Linked DNA regions of Homo sapiens. The protein of the gene in region 1 interacts with the protein of each later gene in a biochemical or structural test. Each region holds a gene or a part of one and is shown on either strand. Other genes may lie near its edges. The genes, in order: STXBP4, DGKK and DOCK4.

What was found.
Region 2: the proteins of STXBP4 (region 1) and DGKK interact in a test that uses a peptide from one of them, tested with the Homo sapiens proteins (one large-scale study listed by IntAct).
Region 3: the proteins of STXBP4 (region 1) and DOCK4 interact in a test that uses a peptide from one of them, tested with the Homo sapiens proteins (one large-scale study listed by IntAct).

The regions. Positions count from the first base shown.
Region 1 is NC_000017.11:55,076,651-55,080,304, reverse strand, and holds part of STXBP4 (syntaxin-binding protein 4), read right to left. Parts: intron 2,228-3,654; coding exon 2,111-2,227; intron 1,620-2,110; coding exon 1,570-1,619; intron 1-1,569. UniProt on the Homo sapiens protein: Plays a role in the translocation of transport vesicles from the cytoplasm to the plasma membrane. Inhibits the translocation of SLC2A4 from intracellular vesicles to the plasma membrane by STX4A binding and preventing the interaction between STX4A and VAMP2.
Region 2 is NC_000023.11:50,376,704-50,380,357, reverse strand, and holds part of DGKK (diacylglycerol kinase kappa), read left to right. Parts: intron 1-280; coding exon 281-377; intron 378-623; coding exon 624-731; intron 732-1,666; coding exon 1,667-1,780; intron 1,781-2,125; coding exon 2,126-2,260; intron 2,261-3,439; coding exon 3,440-3,600; intron 3,601-3,654. UniProt on the Homo sapiens protein: Diacylglycerol kinase that converts diacylglycerol/DAG into phosphatidic acid/phosphatidate/PA and regulates the respective levels of these two bioactive lipids.
Region 3 is NC_000007.14:111,870,895-111,874,548, forward strand, and holds part of DOCK4 (dedicator of cytokinesis protein 4), read right to left. Parts: intron 1,671-3,654; coding exon 1,573-1,670; intron 1,459-1,572; coding exon 1,375-1,458; intron 1,197-1,374; coding exon 1,096-1,196; intron 1-1,095. UniProt on the Homo sapiens protein: Functions as a guanine nucleotide exchange factor (GEF) that promotes the exchange of GDP to GTP, converting inactive GDP-bound small GTPases into their active GTP-bound form. Involved in regulation of adherens junction between cells.

The DNA.
Region 1 (3,654 bases):
ATCCATGTAGAGGATATGCTATATTGAAATGACTGCACCAGTTTTTACTAGTGTTTAATTTACTAAGACACCATGAAATGTTGCGTGATGTAGCTATTTAAAGTTGTCTTTTTTTCCATGAAGCAGTTTAAGGCAAGGGCAGGCTCTGGCTTTTAAATAGTCATTTTAACCTTAATTTTTAAAACAAAACTTTTGAATTATTAGTCAAGGTAAAACTAAGACCTTGGAAAGCTGAGGGTGGGTGACACACTTAGCCCATAAAGAAATAAATGTGATTACTGATTATTTTAAGATCCTTACTGAGAGTAATAATCATGAAATTCACAGAGTTTTCTTGTATCATAAGCAGCAAGGAGAGTAAGAAGTTATGTCAGGTTCCTTCATCATAAGAAGTAAAACATTACTTGAGTTTAGAAGTGAATTATAAATATTCTTCTAAATTAAAAAATGCTATGTGGACACCAAAAATATCTTCACTTATTAAGCTGCTGTTTTCACAGTAAAGGGTAGAGTATTTATTTACTTTTTGAGACAGGGCATCACTATGTTATCCAGGCTGGAGGGCAGTGGTATGATCACAGCTCATTGCAGCCTCAATCTCCTAGAGCTCCTGGGCTCCAGCAATCCTCCTGCCTCAACCTCCCAAGTAGCTGGGAATATAGGAATGCACCATCCCATCTGGCTATTTCTTTTTTTTTTTTTTTTTGTAGAGATAGGGTCCCACTGTGTGCCACTATGTTCCTTGTCTCAAACTCCTGGGCTCAAGTGATCCCCCTGCCTCAGCCTCCCAAAATACTGGGATTACAGGTATGCACCATCACACCCAACCTCATTGAGTCTTCCTGTTTCTGCAAGCGTATATTGCTAGAAGTAGAAGATGTATCTAGGACTAGTGGCAGCTATTATGAGAGCAGAAAAAAATTACTTTGGAAATGCATAAACAAGAATCTTTCTTTTGTAAATGTCTTTCATCATGTATCAAAATGACCATAAACTTGTGGTTTGAAATAAATAAATTTGATTAGTATGTTTCCAGCTTCTAGTAAGAAACTTTAAATCCAAAACATATTATGAATAATGAGACAATCGAGGTATATTCTCCAAATATATTTCTTTTATTTATAGCTACTGAAAGATGAAAACGAAAGAAAATGATTGCATGAATATGTTTTCCAAAATTCTGTTTGCCAGAACAACTAACCTGCTGGGTTGAGACACTTTTAGTAGTGAACCTGTGACCAGTAACTTTGATTCATACGCAAGACAATTACAGAATTTTAAGTTAATCTCATCTTTATAGAATTTTTGATAAAGACAGGATAGGTGGTTTCTACCATAATTTTAGATTACAAGGTTACAATGATTGACTAAATACCTCCAGGAATTTCTTTAACAGAGATGGGACACAAAACAATATGTCCTTGCATCTATTTCCATATGATGGCATCCAATGGGAGTTATGTAGCACCTTAGGACTATTTAAGAGATTTTTAGTATTTGAGTCACAATGACCAGATGAAGAATTTAATCACTACCCATATTCTGCAAAAAGCACTTAAATTTTCTTACCTTAAATTTGATAAAGGAGTAGAATTATCAGAAAATACTTCTTGAATAGCCTAGCAACAAACAAGATGGTGAAGGAGATATATCAGTTTGACAGTTTTTAAAAAATATCTTTTCTTCATTAATATTTATAACCTCCTCTGTCCACGGATTAAACTGATGCTTCTATTATGTAGCGGGGGTGCAAACAATTGAACTAACATGCAGTTTTACTCAGAAATATAACAGCTATGAAAACATTTCTTTATAAGGTAAGTAGTTATCAAATAATGTTTATGCATTATCAGGATTTTTGGTAAAGTATTCATTAAAATAGTATATACTTGGAATCCCATCACCTTGTCTCAATTATTTCTCTAAACAATCTATAAAATGTTAGCCAGTCTTTTCATCATGTATGCAGTTCTAAATCTGACCATAAGCCAGCATTGCTGCTTTGAGACTAGAGAATGTTTCACTAGGTACCAAATACAGTAACATTTATCTATATGCCAGTTGCCTATATATTTTTTAAAGATGAATGTAATAGAACAGAAAAACTTACCTCTACAAAATGAAGAAGCTTTTCAGTGGATGCCTCAAAAGTTTTTCGAGCCATTTCTGATTTTCGTAATTGGCAGTCGAGTACCATGATTCTCTTTTTTAAATCCTGAACACTTTCCTGCACAGAGATATCAAAAGGAGCATTTACACATTTCTTCAGTTTTACATTACTGGTCCCTATTTTCAGTTTTTATGAACTAATATTCAATATTACCAAATTATCTTTTTCTCTTACTGTACATATGTTTTGATTTTGGGGGGCATGTAACTAACTGCATATTTAAAAGTTAATTTGCACAGAGATACTGCAAGTTTTATGAGATAAGTTGTATATGAGTTTATTGATTCTTATAGTAAAATACATTTAAATTAGTTTATGGTTTTGTTTTGTTTTGTTTTTGCAATGTGTCTTACCAGATGCTGACAGAAACCTCTACTAATTTAACATAACTAAAAATGCTGGATACACACACACACACACACACACACACACACACACACACACACACGATGTAAGACAAAGCTAGCAAGGAAGTAAAGGAATTCCATGGAGACATGCAACAGCGATGCCAAGTGAGCCCACTGGGGTAAGAGAGCACTGAAGCATTATTTGTTCGGAGGGTATATGCTGATCCCTGGTGGCCTACAGTTTGGGGTTTCAACAGTCACAAATGGAAAACAGAAGAAACTCAATGGGTGAACTGGGAAGAAGTAAACTTCACAGAGGTAAACAGTGTTTTGATGTTGGCTCAGGTGACTTGAGTAAAAAAGTTTCTCCTGAATAATTCCTAACCAAAAGTCCCCATTCACACAGGTTTGGGGCCAGAATTTACATTATCTGTGTGGCCTAAAAAGCCATATGCTGAAATTTTACTTTAAATTGGTCCCAGGCTAGCAGAAGCAAACTCAAAACTCTGGAGAGATATTTCTAAAACTCAGAGCTCAAAGAATTCCCACTTATAATGCATTGATAGAACATGATCTCACAGACACAAACAAAAATCACTAAACATATGAGAAAATAAGCTCTATGAATGAAAGCTAACTGAAGGAAATAAAGTACAGTATCAGATCTATAAAGACAGCAGATATTTAAGTGAGCAGATACAAAATATAAGGCAATTATGTTTAATATGTTTTTAAAAATAAGAGGGAATTGAAAGTATAATACACAAGAAACTATTGAAATAGATCCAGATAACATAAAAAATACATCTCAAAAATAAAAATGTAACATAACTAAATTAGAAACTTTATTTATAGATTTGACATCCAGTTAGATACAATTATAAAGAGAATGGGTGAACTTGACAACAGAGGTAAAGAAACTTCTCATAATGGAACAGAAAGACAAAAATTGAAATACAAATGGGGAGAAAAGGTAAAGAGAAAACAGCCAGAAGAAGCTATAGCACACATCCAATCTGAATTACACAAGAACAAATACAAAGAATGAAAGAGAAATCGCTCAGGATAATAGCTTAGTGATTTCCAGAAATGGCAGAAGACATTGCTCTTCGAATCGGGAAGCTCAATGAATCCCAA
Region 2 (3,654 bases), on another chromosome or scaffold:
AGCCTGTTTCTTCCAAGTCTGGACCAATATTGGTAGCAAGCAGAAATGGAAAATTTATTTATTGATAGGATACTGAGGCTTCAAAGGGGCCCAGGAACCCATTTCTTCAAGTGTTTGCATTGGATATCAGTTACATTAACCGCTGTCCAGTTGCCATTTAGCATGACTCCTCTCTGTAAGAAGGCATTTGAGAAGTAAGATGGTTTTCCTTCCTGTCTTTTTCCACCATTTATCTATATATCATTCACCCTCTGCTTTCTTAATGCTTACCTCCATGTAGTAGCCGCCTTAAGAACAAGATGTGGTATGGCCTTCTGGGAACCAAAGAACTTTTGCAGCGCTCTTACAGGAAACTGGAAGAACGAGTGCATTTGGAGGTTAGTGGAAAAGCGGGTAGTCTTTCCTGGGTATGGAGAAAGGAAATCTCATGGCCTTGGGAATACCGTACATGCTGATTCTTCCTGAGCTTTAACTCTGTGATCCTCACAGCTCATGGGAGGAAGGCATGAAGATAGATTTCCATGTAATGGAAGAGAAGACAGAGCCCTTTCCCCATCTCTGTAAATGTTCCTTCATGTTGCTATCTAAAGATCCAGCTAATGAGAGCTACTCTTTTCTTTCAGTGTGATGGAGAAACCATCTCCTTGCCAAACCTGCAAGGCATTGTAGTGCTCAACATTACCAGCTATGCTGGAGGTATCAACTTCTGGGGAAGCAACACAGCAACCACGGTTAGTATGGAACAAGGAATGGGGAGGAAGAAAGGCATGATCCCACTAAGGTCTCTCTGAAGGAAGCATTGTGCTAACTGAAGTGAAAAATAGACAATGGGAGAAGAGGAGGTGGTCCGAGAACCTTTATTAGCAGCAGCTGTATGATCAGTTTTTCAGGCAATTACCATCCGAAAGCAGAAAATTCAACCAAAGACCTCAGGATAAGGTCAACTCGTAGGTGTTGCCTGGGCTTTGGATTTTCCATTCCTCGGGTCTGACAGATCCTTTAAAGGCTATCTAGACCATGCTTTTTTTTTTTTTTTTTTTTTGAAACGGAGTCTTGCTCTGTCATCCAGGCTGGAGTGGCAAGATCTCAGCTCACTGCAACCTCCGCCTCCCAGGTTCAAGTGATTCTCCTGCCTCAGCCTCCCGAGTAGCTGGGATTACAGGCGCCAGCCACCATGCCCGGCTAATTTTTGTATTTTTAGTAGAGACAGGGTTTCGCCATGTTGACCAGGCTTGTTGACCTTGAACTTTTGGCCTCAGGTGATCCACCCACCTTGGCCTCCCAAAGTGCTGGGATTACAGGTGTGAGCCACTGCGCCCGGCCAAGGCCATGCTCTTTTCTCCAAGGAATTCTGTCAGTAAAATCTCCTGGGATGCTGACCATGACCCCTTTACTCTGAGTTTACCCAAGAAGGTCATAAGGCCAATAAGACTGGCCTCAGGTATTTATGATGCTGGATTGGAAAAGGAGGGAACTGGCTAAGAGTGCAGTACCCTTTTCCCAGATTGGCTTTCTGACCTCATCTTTTTCCCTTTTAATAATGAAGTGTTTCCACTCTTCATGAGCTAGAAAAATTCTCACCAGGAGCCTTTAAACATGCCTTCTTGTTATAGACAGGGTGTGATTTCTCAAGGGTGGGAGATGTGACACAGTTCTTCCTCCTCAGGAATATGAGGCTCCTGCAATCGATGATGGGAAACTGGAGGTGGTGGCAATCTTTGGTTCTGTGCAGATGGCAATGTCCCGTATCATCAACCTGCATCATCATCGCATTGCCCAGGTAGGCAGGGGCTGGGTGGGCACTGGGAAGGGGCTGAGGTTTTTGACTGCTACCCAGGATGTGGGATAGTCCCAGGAATTAACTGGGTAGAAGAATGCCAGGGTGGAGTGAGCAGGTTATCTGGTGGGCAGTAAAGTGCTGACTGAGGTTGGAGGCAGAGGTGGCAGAAGCCAATGGAGCAAAAAGCCCATAGGAAACAGGCATTTCTTCCTGGGATGATCTGATTCACATCCTTTCCAGTCCTGCTTCAGATACACATTCAAGGCCATAACTATGAGATTATCAGATAGAGTTACAGCAGTTGCCCCATTTTTCTCTCCCATTCTTCCTCATTTTCTCTGGCAGTGCCATGAGGTGATGATAACCATTGATGGTGAAGAAGGTATCCCAGTGCAGGTGGATGGGGAGGCCTGGATTCAGAGACCAGGCCTTATCAAAATTAGATACAAGAACGCTGCCCAGATGCTGACAAGAGATCGGGTAAGGGGGAAAATCTTGTCTTGGGCTCCTATACTGCCTCATCCATAGTCACTTGAGTACTGAATATTTCCACTCAAGCAGAATTCCTCAAAAGGAGGTCTGTGTGCCCCTGGCATCAGAGTCACTTGAGATGCTGGTTATAAATGCATTCTTGGGCCCCCACACCAGACCCACTGAACCACATAGGGTTGCATAGTTCCCAGGAACCCAAATTTGCAAACAGGCTCCTCAAGACACTCTGATATATACTGACATTTGCAAACACTGTCCAAGAGAGTGAGACAAGGAGCTTCCTCCCCTGGTTTTCGACAAGGTTATCCTCCTCTTTCCACTGCAAAGAGAGCTAAAAGCGTCAGATGATTATGGAAAAATCTTCTCCTTCAGCAACAGATTCTGCATTGAACATGGTCTTTAGGTGTCTCTAAGGTTCCTTAAAATGCTGCATTAATACATGTCATCCACTTCAGCTAAAGCTTCTAAAGCTTATAAAGGAGCTATTATTGATCACATATTCAATGCTTGGAGGTTATCTTGCACTCTAACCTGTGAAAAGTCCATGGAAACAGCAATAGAGAAAGGAAGAGAAGTCCAGTTTATAAACTGCCTATTCTGTGCTAGGCATTTTACATTTCTCTCATGTAGGTTCTCTCCACAATCTTATGAGGTGGATACACTTATTCCCATTTTACAGATGAGGAAAATGAGGACCAGAGAGGTTAAATAATTTGCTAATGGTCACACAACTAGTAAATGACAGAAACACGATTCAAAATTAAATTAGATATGTTTGGCTCTAAACTGCATCACCACATATTGCCTACATTTGGCAAAGAAGGGAGCATGAAAGGTGCTCCACTGTCTTGTCAGTCATGATGCCTTCATATGGGAGCTTCTAGAAACCAGACATGTGTATGATCCAAGCCTGGTGTCCCAAAATCCAGCATACTCAGAACAACAAAAACTAAAGGGCATAGTCCAGAAGAGATTGAATAAAATGATGGATACTTGTATAGGTATATAGATGGGTATGACAGGGGGAATGGACAGGGGGCCCTCCTTCCCCTCTACCCACTGTACCCACATACCCATTGCCCACAAACGTCAGGCTCACAGACAGATCTGTCATGTGCACTAGTAGCTACAGCAATCATTAGGATATGCCACTGTATTCATCTCCAGGACTTTGAGAACTCAATGAAAATGTGGGAATACAAGCATACTGAAATTCAAGCTGCCCCTCAACCCCAGCTGGACTTCCAGGACTCTCAAGAGAGCCTCTCTGACGAGGAGTATGCCCAGATGCAGCACTTAGCTCGGCTTGCAGAAAACCTCATCAGCAAGTAAGTGGACTGGCCTAGATACAGGGCTGAGAATCCTAAGAAGGCATAGGGAGA
Region 3 (3,654 bases), on another chromosome or scaffold:
ACTAGGGCCCAAATTGTTAGGCTGAGTGGGCCGATGTTTCAAAACTATTCCTGCGGTTGCATTTCACTCTCAGCAAAAAATCACACTGATGAAGTGTCAAGTCTAACAAAAATACCTTCATTCATTTCGATGTTGGAGACGTCGATCTTAACCTGTCATGGCTGGGAATATCCAAGTAAACAGGATCAAATGCTTATCTGATAACCTATTAACCTTTATATATTACATAGATGGGGGAAGGATATCAACCTGATTTCATGCTTTTTAAACTCACCTCAGGGAACAGTCAGGCATGTGCATGCCCACAGGTGCTTAAGGTATAAGGTAGAAATATGGGAGAACAGCAAGGACCATATTGGACTGGGAGACAGACGATGGGGTACACTCCAAGGCTATTTAAGCAGTTATTTGTCGAACTAAAAGAGAGAAGCTGTGGCCTCTGGCAATTATCAACTATGTTGAGAGGAGGCAGGCACTAGCCAAAGCATAATATTATTCATAACTTTTCAGCACCACCTGAGCCAGTAGAAAAGGAGGAGCAGTTAAAATAGCAGCTCCTATCAAAGAGTAGATCCCAATGACTAAATTGCCTGAGGCCAGGGACCAGGTCTTCACATCATCAGCATAAAGTACAGTGCCTGGCAAGCAGCTGGCACTCAGTAAATCCTAACATAAATGAATGGATGACTTTCAGCAGGTGTGAAGGAAAAGGTTGTTTTCCATTCATATTTCTTTCTTATGAACATTTATAATCATCAGGGAGTACAGTGATGAAGTGGGACTCTTAACAGCCGAAGTGAGATAACCAGACATTTTAGACCAAAGAATATCCAGTGAAACAGAGACAAGAAGGAAAGACTTTATATTTTAGGGCTCAGGAATAGAATTCAGGAGGTTTTTTTCCCTTTTTAATCAAAATAAGTTCTACCCATTTAAAAAGGGTGTGTTAGCAGGGAAGAGACTATCTCAAGAGACACTTCAGTAGTGCTCCATTTCTTCCTACACTCCCTTTTAAATTTTCCTATATCGCCTCTTCTGCTGAGAAAAGCTTGAAAGGAACCACTTCTAAACTAATTACAAGATACAGGGCCTTACCTGTATGCAAGTGCCCCAGCAAAATGACTCTCAATGTAAGTGTCCATTACAGGTTTAAAATGATGAAATTTGCTATCTTGCAGCAAATTTATTATGTGAACCTAAAAAAAGAAAATTGAGCTTTATAAAACTAAATGCAAATCAAGGTTTTCCTTTTTTTTTTGCTTCTTTTTAAAATGAACTCTTACATTATTAAGCACATGTTTCTGAACCAGCCTCATGAAAGTCAAGATTGAGAGACAAAACAGTTAAAATACAATTAAGGGAATTTGAACTTACCAAAGAATCAAACACTTTAGACCCATATTTTTGGGAATTTTCATCTAAAATTCCAAATAAGGTATCCAGTGTATCCTGCAGAAACTGTTAGATAAAGAAGTAGCAAATGAGTAAATAAGATACTATCTGTCTTTTTCCTCCAAATGTTCTTTATTCTATGAATCTCTGCAAGGAAAATAGTAATGAAATACTATATACCTTTACTATCTCTGAGCCATCAATTTCTTTTAATTTAGAGAGACAGCCAGTGATCTTGTCTGGGTGGGTTCTCCATTTCAAAAGATCAAGCATATCACCTTTCAAAATAGAAAAGGAAGATTAATTGCCTTAATAGAGAACAGGTCCTCACATGAAAGCGTTCTGCTAGTAAAAGTAAAATTCTTAACACATGTGGCTCCCCTCTCCTAGCCACTCAAGTTGCAGGCTCCCACAAACTATGACTAGCCCTCTCTAGGATGGCATTTATTTCACTGTATTCTGTTTCCTCTCCACTGCTCTTGACTTACAAACTCCTACCCATCCTTTAGTCCTCAGATCGGATGTTGCTTCATTTTGGAAGCCTTTCCTGAAATCTCGAGCTAACTGTCCCTTCTACATGCTTCCACATCACAGTAGCACTTACAAATCCTTACAAATCAGGCAGGTGACAAATATTTGTTGATTAATTTTTCTGCCTCCTCCTGGAAAGATGAGAGTTTCTTGAGGGCTGGGAACCTGCTTTATTCCCGTTTGGGTGCCCAGCACATAGCACTCTGCCTAGCAACCAACTCCACCCAGGAACAAAGGTCTTCTTGGCAATGTGACCCAAATCTTGCAGACTAAAAGAATGGTAACAGGCCCAGTGATTTCTTAGATCATCCAGGGAGCTCTCAACCTGAGAAGAGCAGCTCCTGGACTCCACAGGCCATCTTTCATCCCAGAGTCCAGATAAGCACAGGGCCCAGCTCTTTAACCCTTTCCTAAACAGACATGAGGGCTTTGGTCCAGCAGGTCCTTAGAGAACCTCTTCACCTGGGGAGGGAATAAATTTATCTTTCTTGGGCAGAAGTTACAAAGGCTGTGGGAGATGGTCTCCATGCATTATTAGTCTCCAACGCATGCAGGGAGAGGTGGCATCTGGAGGCCAATGAATGCAGTGAGAACTGAAGGCTCGCGTGTGCCGAGCACGCGCAGGGCAGCGGGACCTGGTAGAACTGGCCTCAGGGCTCAGTGGAGTTGCCAGACTAGACTGGCCGAGAGAGGAGCCAGGACAGAATTTCCAGGCAGGGAAGCAGGAAATTTACTTCAAATCACTTGTTTTAGCAGAAACCCAAAAGGGACTTTCTGAGAAACAGAAAGATGATGAGGGAACAAAAACTCCAAACCCCCCAAACCAAGGAAGTAGGTAAGATGAGAAAGAAAAAGAGAATATAGAGAACACCAGTGAGAAAAAGCATTAAGAATCTCAAGGAGAAAGAGAAGCAAGCTCCACCAAAGCCAGATTCAAGAGAAAAACCTCACAAAGGATTTACTATTAATAGTAAGGAATTCAGTACCAAACAGGAATGTTTATCTGCAACAAACACGGGTAAGAGGAGGAGGAGGAATTAGAATGAGAAAAATAAAGTGATTTTAAAAATACTGACTTTGAAAAAGAGATTTATGATGTTTTCATAACCAAAAACCCTGAAAATGTTGACTATTCAGATGTAATTCAGACATCCTGGGGTATGACTGAAACCTTTTAAAACTGATTGGTTATATTTGGCATATCAGATATTTCCACAGAGTGAGACTCAGGGCGACAAAGGCAAAGCTCTATTGTTCTCCCCAGTTTGCTGCTTCCCTCCTACCTACTTCCTACTTCCTGCATCTCACTTCAGGAGGCCTCCCCTCCCTGGCATCTTCTCTTTCATAATCCCTCGTGCATTTCCCCTGCCATTCACTCCTCACTTCCCACTCCACCCCCATCCCAGCTCTCACTCCTCCTTTGTGTTCTCTTTCCCTTCCTTTAAAGTGAGGCAGTTGCAGGGGCCATCAGGACCCTGCTCAATGTGAGGAGTGTGGGGAGGAAGGAGGTGGCTATGCTGGCTACCAAGTGGCAGCAGTGGAGAATGAGGACTAGGGCCCATTTAAGTAGGGCTGGAAAACAGATTACAGGGGTCCAGAAAATGAGTCAGGATGAGCCTGCCCATCCTCCCTGCAAGAAGGCTGATGAATCTCTACACTGCTCATGATGGAGCATGTGGAAAAGCCCAGTAGTTATGTCCATCTGGATGTAATTAATCATGTATGCAAAAT